Homo sapiens: one gene and its partner. The protein of the gene in region 1 purifies or fractionates together with the protein of each later gene. This does not show direct contact. Each region holds a gene or a part of one and is shown in the gene's direction. Other genes may lie near its edges.

Region 1 (3,600 bases):
TTGTTTCACAGGTTCCATCTCAAGTGGTAGTAGCAGGCTTAGAATTCAAACTCAGATTCATCTGACTCAGAAACCATACACTCAGAAAAATCCAGGAAATGCCCCTGCCCACTGCCCCCCACCCCCGCCGTCACCCCCACCCCCAACCCCCACCAGGAAATAGATGCATCCCAGGAACTAAAAATCTTACATGGAAGTCAAGCCAGAGCTCCAGATCTGCAAGTGTATTTCTTTTAAACCTCAGTAAAAGCTGCCTGATAGCCAAGAACAGTGGCATTTAGTTCAACGGGGATTTTAGATTCGTCTTTCCAGTGTCCTCACTCCTGAGTAAGAAGAAGGACAGAGCACGTTGGTATTTTCCTGGCAGCAGACACATGTTAAAGGAAATTTGATAGAAAGATAGAGATGGGGGTTGCTATTTTTATAGCCTGCCTTGTCTGTATCCAGCCTGCCTCCAGCATACCAGCATCACCAGCAGTGCTAAGAACAGGGAATTCCATGCTGTGGAGTAGGGGGTGCTGTAAGAGCCCCAGGTGATACTGGAGAGGAAAAATGCCCCCTTGGAGCCTAAATAGTACTGTTACGTATATGCCAAGGGCTCAGTTTAGCTTCTTCTTATTATTTATTTATTTATTTATTTATTTATTTATTAATTTTTTGTTGAGACGGGGTCCCACTCTGTCGCCCAGGCTGGAGTGCAATGGCGCGATCTCGGCTCACTGCAACCTCTGCCTCCCAGGTTCAAGCAATTCTCCTGCCTCAGCCTCCTCAGTAGCTGGGATTACAGGCGCCCGCCACCACGCCCAGCTAATTTTTGTATTTTTGGTAGAGACGGGGTTTCACCATGTTGGTCAGGCTGGTCTTGAACTCCTGACCTCAGATGATCCATGTGCCTCGGCCTCCCAAGGTGGGGATTACAGGCGTGAGCCACCGTGCCCAGCCCTCAGTTTAGCTTCTGCTGCTAAACAGTCCACCCTTGGGAGAGAGACTGAAAAGGGTGGGGCGAGGGCCCATCTCACTTGAGAAAGTGCAAGCCTGACAGCTGAAGGGTCCCAGAGCAGCAAATATCACCTTGTTTCTATGGGACCATTCCAGCTGTCTGCTTTTGATTGACAGAGGCATCTGGCTGCTAAAAATACCCTCCTGACCAAATGTTCCCTACTCCAACTAAAGCCGAACAGGATTGTTGCAGTTCAGAACTTAGCACATACAGATAGCTTCTGCTTGCAATGGAACCTCTCAAAACTTTTCAGGCCCTATGCCATATTAACCCATGGTCATTTTCTGTTCTGTCGGCTTTGCTGGGTGATGAATGAAACTCTTCCCAGTTCACTTGTTCTCTTGTCTGTCCCATCCCCACCTCCAGGAAAAGTAGCAGAGGGGGAGGTGAGGGCCCAGTAGCTGAGAGCGAGTAGGGAAGGGGAGGTGGCTTGTCCATTTATAGTCTTGCTCTTTGGGATGCTGAAGGTGCTGAAATAGCAATGACAAGAGACTTGGCTCAGTGTTAAATAACTGCCGCGCTGGCCTGACAGTCTCTGAGATGACAATAGGGAGAATGGAGAACGTGGAGGTCTTCACCGCTGAGGGCAAAGGAAGGGGTCTGAAGGCCACCAAGGAGTTCTGGGCTGCAGATATCATCTTTGCTGAGCGGGCTTATTCCGCAGTGGTTTTTGACAGGTATGAAATGTGGGGAGTTGCCTTCTCTCCTGTTAGTTTGGCTGGGGCCAAACTCTAAAATACTTTGCTCTCAAAAATCATCAGGGGAAGGGATAAAATTCATGTGCTCTTTTTTCAACAAAATGGCACTTCTGAGAGCTAATTTTTCTGGCACAAATTTTTCTGCAAGGGATCATTGCCAGTGTGATTTGCTGTGGCTCCTAGAAGGGTGGTGAAGGTGAGCAAAGGCTTCGGGGGCACTTTCTCCCAATACTGGCCAACTTGGCTGAGAGGGTGTGCTGGGAGTGGAAAGGTGGGTGTGGTGCTGTGGGAAACATTTTCCGACAGAAAGCTCTATATTTTTAGCTTTCTTTTTATTATAAATACATTACCAGATAAAGTAATTGCTGAGACTTTAAAAATTATGAACTATTTGTATATTTATAATTATGAATAACCCAGGAATCCACTTTCCCTTGAAAAATCTGAGTATCACCCAATCCCAGTCCCCTCTGTCTTTCCTCAGATATTACCCCTGCTATTATTTCAATGTATTTCCTTCTAGAATGTTCCTGTGCTATTACATACATATATCTGCACTTAACAAGATGGATGGCTGTAGTCTGTCTGGTTTTTTTTTTTTTTTTACAGAAATGGTGTCATACTTCAGATGTCATTTTAGAACTCACTCTTTTCCCTAAACAACACGTTTTTGATGTCTATCCTTGCAGGAACTTTAAATCTATAGATACTTCTTTTAAATTCCAAAGATCTATTTCCTTTATAGAGCTATCCATATAGATTCATATGCCATATGAATCATCAATCTTAATTTTAAATATTTCATCCTATAAATATATGACATTTTATTTATCCATTCCCCTATTGAGAGACAATTGGTAGTTTTTAATTTTTCATGAAATAAAATGAAAATCCTTGATCGTGTCTACCTGTACATATGTTCGATTGTTCTCCAGGGCACAGGACTAGAAGAGGAATTGCTGGGCCGTAGGATGTGATGTTTTCAGTTTTATAGGCTCTCCAAACAGGCTCTATTAAATTTACATTCCCGCTTCCTCACGACCTTGGCCACACTAGACTACCAAGCTTTTAAATTAGTAATAAATCTTCATTTTAAACAAACCTACATGGTGATTACATTAAATTGTCAATATTTTCTGAGATCAAGGTTGGGGTGACCTGCTTGACATCTATGTGGTTTGAGTCTGATAACCTAGGCTTTGTGGTTGGCTGGCTGCACTGACCACCCTGGGAAAGGGCACTGCTTCCCACAGATAACTTGATTAGTATTCACATTCTCTTGTCTTCCTGCCCACTAAGACCTTCAGGGAAAAGGGTGTGAACTGGGGCATATGGCTCACCACCACTTGAGGAAAATAAGGGGCTGAGGTGACTTTTTCAGGGGGAGCTTGTCTTATTTCATTAATCTGTGTGTGTGTATGTGTATGTGTCAGGGGAGGGGTGAGTACAGTTAGGGAGCCAGCTGGATTCAGAGTGAAAACAACCCAGAAACACAGGGACTGTCAACACTAATTCTGGCGCTGCCAGTGAGTTACTGCCTGGCCTTGTGAAGAACATCTCCATTTGCTGCTTCCAATTCCCCAAAGTCAATCTAGCCAATCAGTTCCATTTCAAGAAGGTTAAAGTTGAATGGGCTTTCATTCCATTATAAAAGCAAGGCATTGTCATTTTAGAAAATTTAGAAAGATAAGACATCACACAGCGATAACCACTCTTAACATGTTGGGTATCTATTTTCGGTTTGTTTTAAAACATAGGTTTCATTTGGCTGTAATATACTCATTATACAAGCTATTATGCTTTTTCATTTAATAATTTTGACATCTTCTGTGCTATTATACACTCTTCAGAGACATAGTACTTAAGGGCTACGTCTTCTTCTATTACCTGCTGATGACTGGC
Region 2 (3,875 bases), on another chromosome or scaffold:
TGTGGGATGCAGGCGTGCCTGCGGGCTCGGCAGTGTTCGACACATGTGCTGCTTGTCCTGTGTCACCAAATGGGCCTGCAGTCTGTTGTGGGCAGGAGGTAGGCAGTGGCTTCAGTCTTTCTCCTTCTCCAGGGAACCCGGCCCTGGGCCTGCAGTGCAGGTGCTCAGTTCTGTGCCCGGGCTCCTGACTCAGGGGGTCTACCCTGGCTCTGGGGACCCGCACTTCTAGGCAGTGGGGTAGAGTTGTCTGGGCCTGCCTTGTCTGTGGGGTGGGGCCATCCCCTCCAGAAAGGACAGTGTCCTGCCCTGAAGCTGGCTTTCGATAGGTCCACGTTCACCTGGAAGCTGGTGGCGCCCATGTCATGGTCCCCTGTGGCTTCTCCTGGGGATCACATCATCTCTCTGGACCAGCCCTCAACCCTCACTGTCACAAGGCCTCTGCCACAGGCCCCCCGCCACCACTTAGCACTCTCCCTGCTGACCCCCTGGTCCATTCAGCCCCTGGGTGGCCCCCACACAGTCTGTGACAGGGAGGAGGCTGGGAGGGGCACTGCCTCCCACAAGGAGCTCACGTTCTGGTGGGAGGAGGCCAAGAATCAGGACCAAGGAGAACTTCAGTGAAGCAAAAGAAGAAAAATGGAACAGGGGTGAAGGGGCTGGAGAAGCCTCAGGGAGGTGACAGCTGAAACCTGCACCAGGAGGGGCGGGGCCTGTAGTGGGCACTGGGCAGTAGGACCCTGTGGTGAGCCAGGTCTGCTCAGGTAACAGGAAGGTCGTTGGGCCACAGTGTGGTGGGGACTGCCCTGAGGCCGGGTGGCTGCAGCTGGGCCTGGTGTGGGGGTGGTGGCCTTGCCTGGGGGCCCCTGCAGGGCTGGCCTAGCAGGGAAGGTGTCCACACCATCTCAGCTCTGGGCAGGTGGGGTGGACCTGGGGCTTATCCACCGTCTAGAAACCACTTGGAGGCCAGGCAGCCTTGGCTACTGCTCTGTGGCTGGGCCTCCAGGGCCCTCCTGGTCATGCAGAATGGGGCAGAGCCGGAGCCCGTTGGGAGGGAGCCTGGGCTGTGCGCTCGGGGTACTGTGAAGTCCCTGGAGGCCTGGACCCCCATCCTTTCCTGGGTGGGTCAGGGACAGGGTGGGACAGGGACAGAGGGCAAGGGTGAGAGGGTAGAGAGCGGGCAACAGGTAGTAACAGCCGGCCCTTCTCTCCCAGCACAGCGACTCGGACTCCGACCCCGAGTACTCCACGCTGCCGCCATCCATCCCCAGTGCGGTGCCCGTGACCGGCGAGTCCTTCTGTGACTGTGCTGGGCAGAGCGAGGCCTCCTTCTGTAGCAGCCTGCACTCGGCCCACCGGGGCAGGGACTGCCGCTGCGGAGAGGAAGACGAGTGTGAGCGTGGGGCCCAGCCCCTGCTGGGACTGCACTGCGGGCGGGCCTGGGGGTGGGCAGGGCAGAGCCCCATGGAGCTCTCAGGGCTGCCCCAGCCTGGGCCTCTCTTGCAGATTTCGACTGGGTCTGGGATGACTTAAATAAGTCATCAGCCACCCTGCTGAGCTGTGACAACCGTAAGGTCAGCTTCCACATGGAGTACAGCTGCGGCACAGCGGCCATCCGGGGCACCAAGGAGCTGGGGGAGGGCCAGCACTTCTGGGAGATCAAGATGACCTCTCCCGTCTACGGCACCGACATGGTAAGTTGCTTCGGCCCAGGGTGCTTCTGGGGAACCTGGCTCCGGCAGCCCAGCCCCGCGCCCTCTGCCTGGCCCCTGTTCCTAGATGGTGGGCATCGGGACGTCGGATGTGGACCTGGACAAATACCGCCACACGTTCTGCAGCCTGCTGGGCAGGGATGAGGACAGCTGGGGCCTCTCCTACACGGGTGCGTGAGGCCCAGGGTGGGGCGGGGCCGAGCCTGGAGCTCCCGGGCTCACTGCGACCCTGGCTGCCCCCAGGCCTCCTCCACCACAAGGGCGACAAGACCAGCTTCTCATCGCGGTTCGGCCAGGGCTCCATCATTGGCGTGCACCTGGACACCTGGCACGGCACACTCACCTTTTTCAAGAACAGGAAGTGTATAGGTGAGGCCGTCACAGGACTTGAGCTCCTCTCAGCTGTCACCCCGAGGGAGGCAGCCACCCCGCCCCAGCCCAGGGGACACTGAGGTTTTCTGAAAGGGTTCCTCCCAGAAGCCTGAGGCCCCAGGGTCCCAGGGGGTGGGACAGTGAGGCCAGGCTGGAGTGGCAGGGCCAGCGCGTGCACCCTGCCTTGCCTCAGCTGTGCCAGCTGCCCACCCGGGTGACTGTAGCGTGAGGTCTGAGGGGCTGCGCCCAGTAGCTGGCCCCTTCCCTGCCTGGGGTTCAGGCTGGGCCCCTCCCTTCCAGGTGTGGCAGCCACCAAGCTGCAGAACAAGAGATTCTACCCGATGGTGTGCTCCACGGCGGCCCGGAGCAGCATGAAGGTCACCCGCTCCTGTGCCAGCGCCACTTCCCTCCAGTACCTGTGCTGCCACCGCCTGCGCCAGCTGCGGCCAGACTCGGGAGACACGCTGGAGGGTCTGCCGCTGCCGCCGGGCCTCAAGCAGGTGCTACACAACAAGCTGGGCTGGGTCCTGAGCATGAGTTGCAGCCGCCGCAAGGCTCCAGTGTCCGATCCCCAGGCAGCGACCTCCGCCCACCCCAGCAGTCGCGAGCCTCGGCCCTGCCAGAGGAAGCGCTGCCGCCGGACCTGACTGACTTCCCAGTGGAACTGCCTTCTTGGGCTGGGACAGCCCCTTTCCTCTGTCCCTTCTTTCTCTGTCCCTTCCTTCCAGCCACACTCCAGGGCGGAGTTGGATGAGGCCCGTCCGGAGGGAGCCATCTCTTGCTCCCGAGGCTGGGACAGTCCTTTCTGTGGGGGCTCTAGGGCCCCTCTGCTGCTGTGCTGGGTGGGGAAGCGGCTGCCCTGAGCCCCAGGTCTTGTGGGAGGCTGCGAGGACGAGAGCCTGGCTGGAGCCCGCGTTGCTGTTCCCACAGGGCCTCGGTTTTTCCTAACTTGCTCTGCATGCTGTCAGCGGCTGCCCCGCCGTCATAGACTTAAAGGACTGCAATAAATGTAGAGTTGATGTCTAACACCCACATGGCGTGAGCTGAAACGTATCCGTGCAGAGGCCGGGCTTGCGAGCAGCCTGGGCCTTCTCCCAGGCCTCACTGCCCCTCCACATCCTTGGGAGTCCCCTACTGCTTCTGGCTGAGGGTGCCACACCCCAAGCCTCCAGGTGGCAGTGGGGCCCTGGAGCTGCCTTCTGGTCCCTGCCGAGTGTGTGTGTGTGTTGGGGGGGCACAGCCCTGCTGCTGAGGCCTCCCCTGGGGCCTACGTGTTCAGGACTCAGCACAGGAACCGCCAGCCATCTGCCAGCCAGAAGCCCCTCTTCTCCCAGCTACCTAAAACTTCCCCTGCAACCACCCACCCTTCCCCTGAGGTCAGACCTGCTCAGCCAGAGAACCCACCCAGGCTGAGGGTCCACATGTGGCTGGGGGTCCTCCCCCACCGCCCAGGGTGTCTGGTCTGTCCCCAAGGCTGCATGCTGTCCTGGTGGTCCCACGTGTGGTCAGGAGCCCAGGTCCAGCAGGAGATCAGGGTTGGCTGTGGTCAGGAAGAGGCAGATGCGGCGGGAGAGGTCAGGCCCCACCCTGCGGGGACGCCCGCCTTCACTGGGCGGCACAGGAAGGTCGGCCAGGAGGCCCATGCGCTCCCGCTCCGTGCTGCAGGCCTCCAGCGCCTAGGAGCAGGCAAAGGCATGAGAGGGCGCCTGGGGACGGGGCTTCTGCACCTGGAGGGCTTGGAGGAGGCAGGGGCCCACCTGCTGCAGAAGGCGGGGGGAGGGGAAGGCTGTGACA

Evidence for each region.
Region 2: the proteins of SMYD1 (region 1) and SPSB3 purify together in Homo sapiens (affinity purification with mass spectrometry; 2 studies listed by BioGRID and IntAct, with this or other methods). This does not show direct contact.

Annotation. Positions count from the first base shown.
Region 1 is NC_000002.12:88,066,325-88,069,924, forward strand, and holds the start of SMYD1 (histone-lysine N-methyltransferase SMYD1), read left to right. Parts: upstream 1-1,500; 5' UTR 1,501-1,540; coding exon 1,541-1,677; intron 1,678-3,600. UniProt on the Homo sapiens protein: Methylates histone H3 at 'Lys-4' (H3K4me), seems able to perform both mono-, di-, and trimethylation. Acts as a transcriptional repressor. Essential for cardiomyocyte differentiation and cardiac morphogenesis.
Region 2 is NC_000016.10:1,775,950-1,779,824, reverse strand, and holds the end of SPSB3 (SPRY domain-containing SOCS box protein 3), read left to right. Parts: exon of another isoform or gene 1-1,212; coding exon 1,213-1,390; coding exon of another isoform or gene 1,391-1,503; coding exon 1,504-1,691; exon of another isoform or gene 1,692-1,776; coding exon 1,777-1,879; exon of another isoform or gene 1,880-1,952; coding exon 1,953-2,078; exon of another isoform or gene 2,079-2,381; coding exon 2,382-2,728; 3' UTR 2,729-3,113; downstream 3,114-3,875. Other genes in the region: structure-specific endonuclease subunit EME2, read right to left, coding at 3,587-3,757, 3,839-3,875.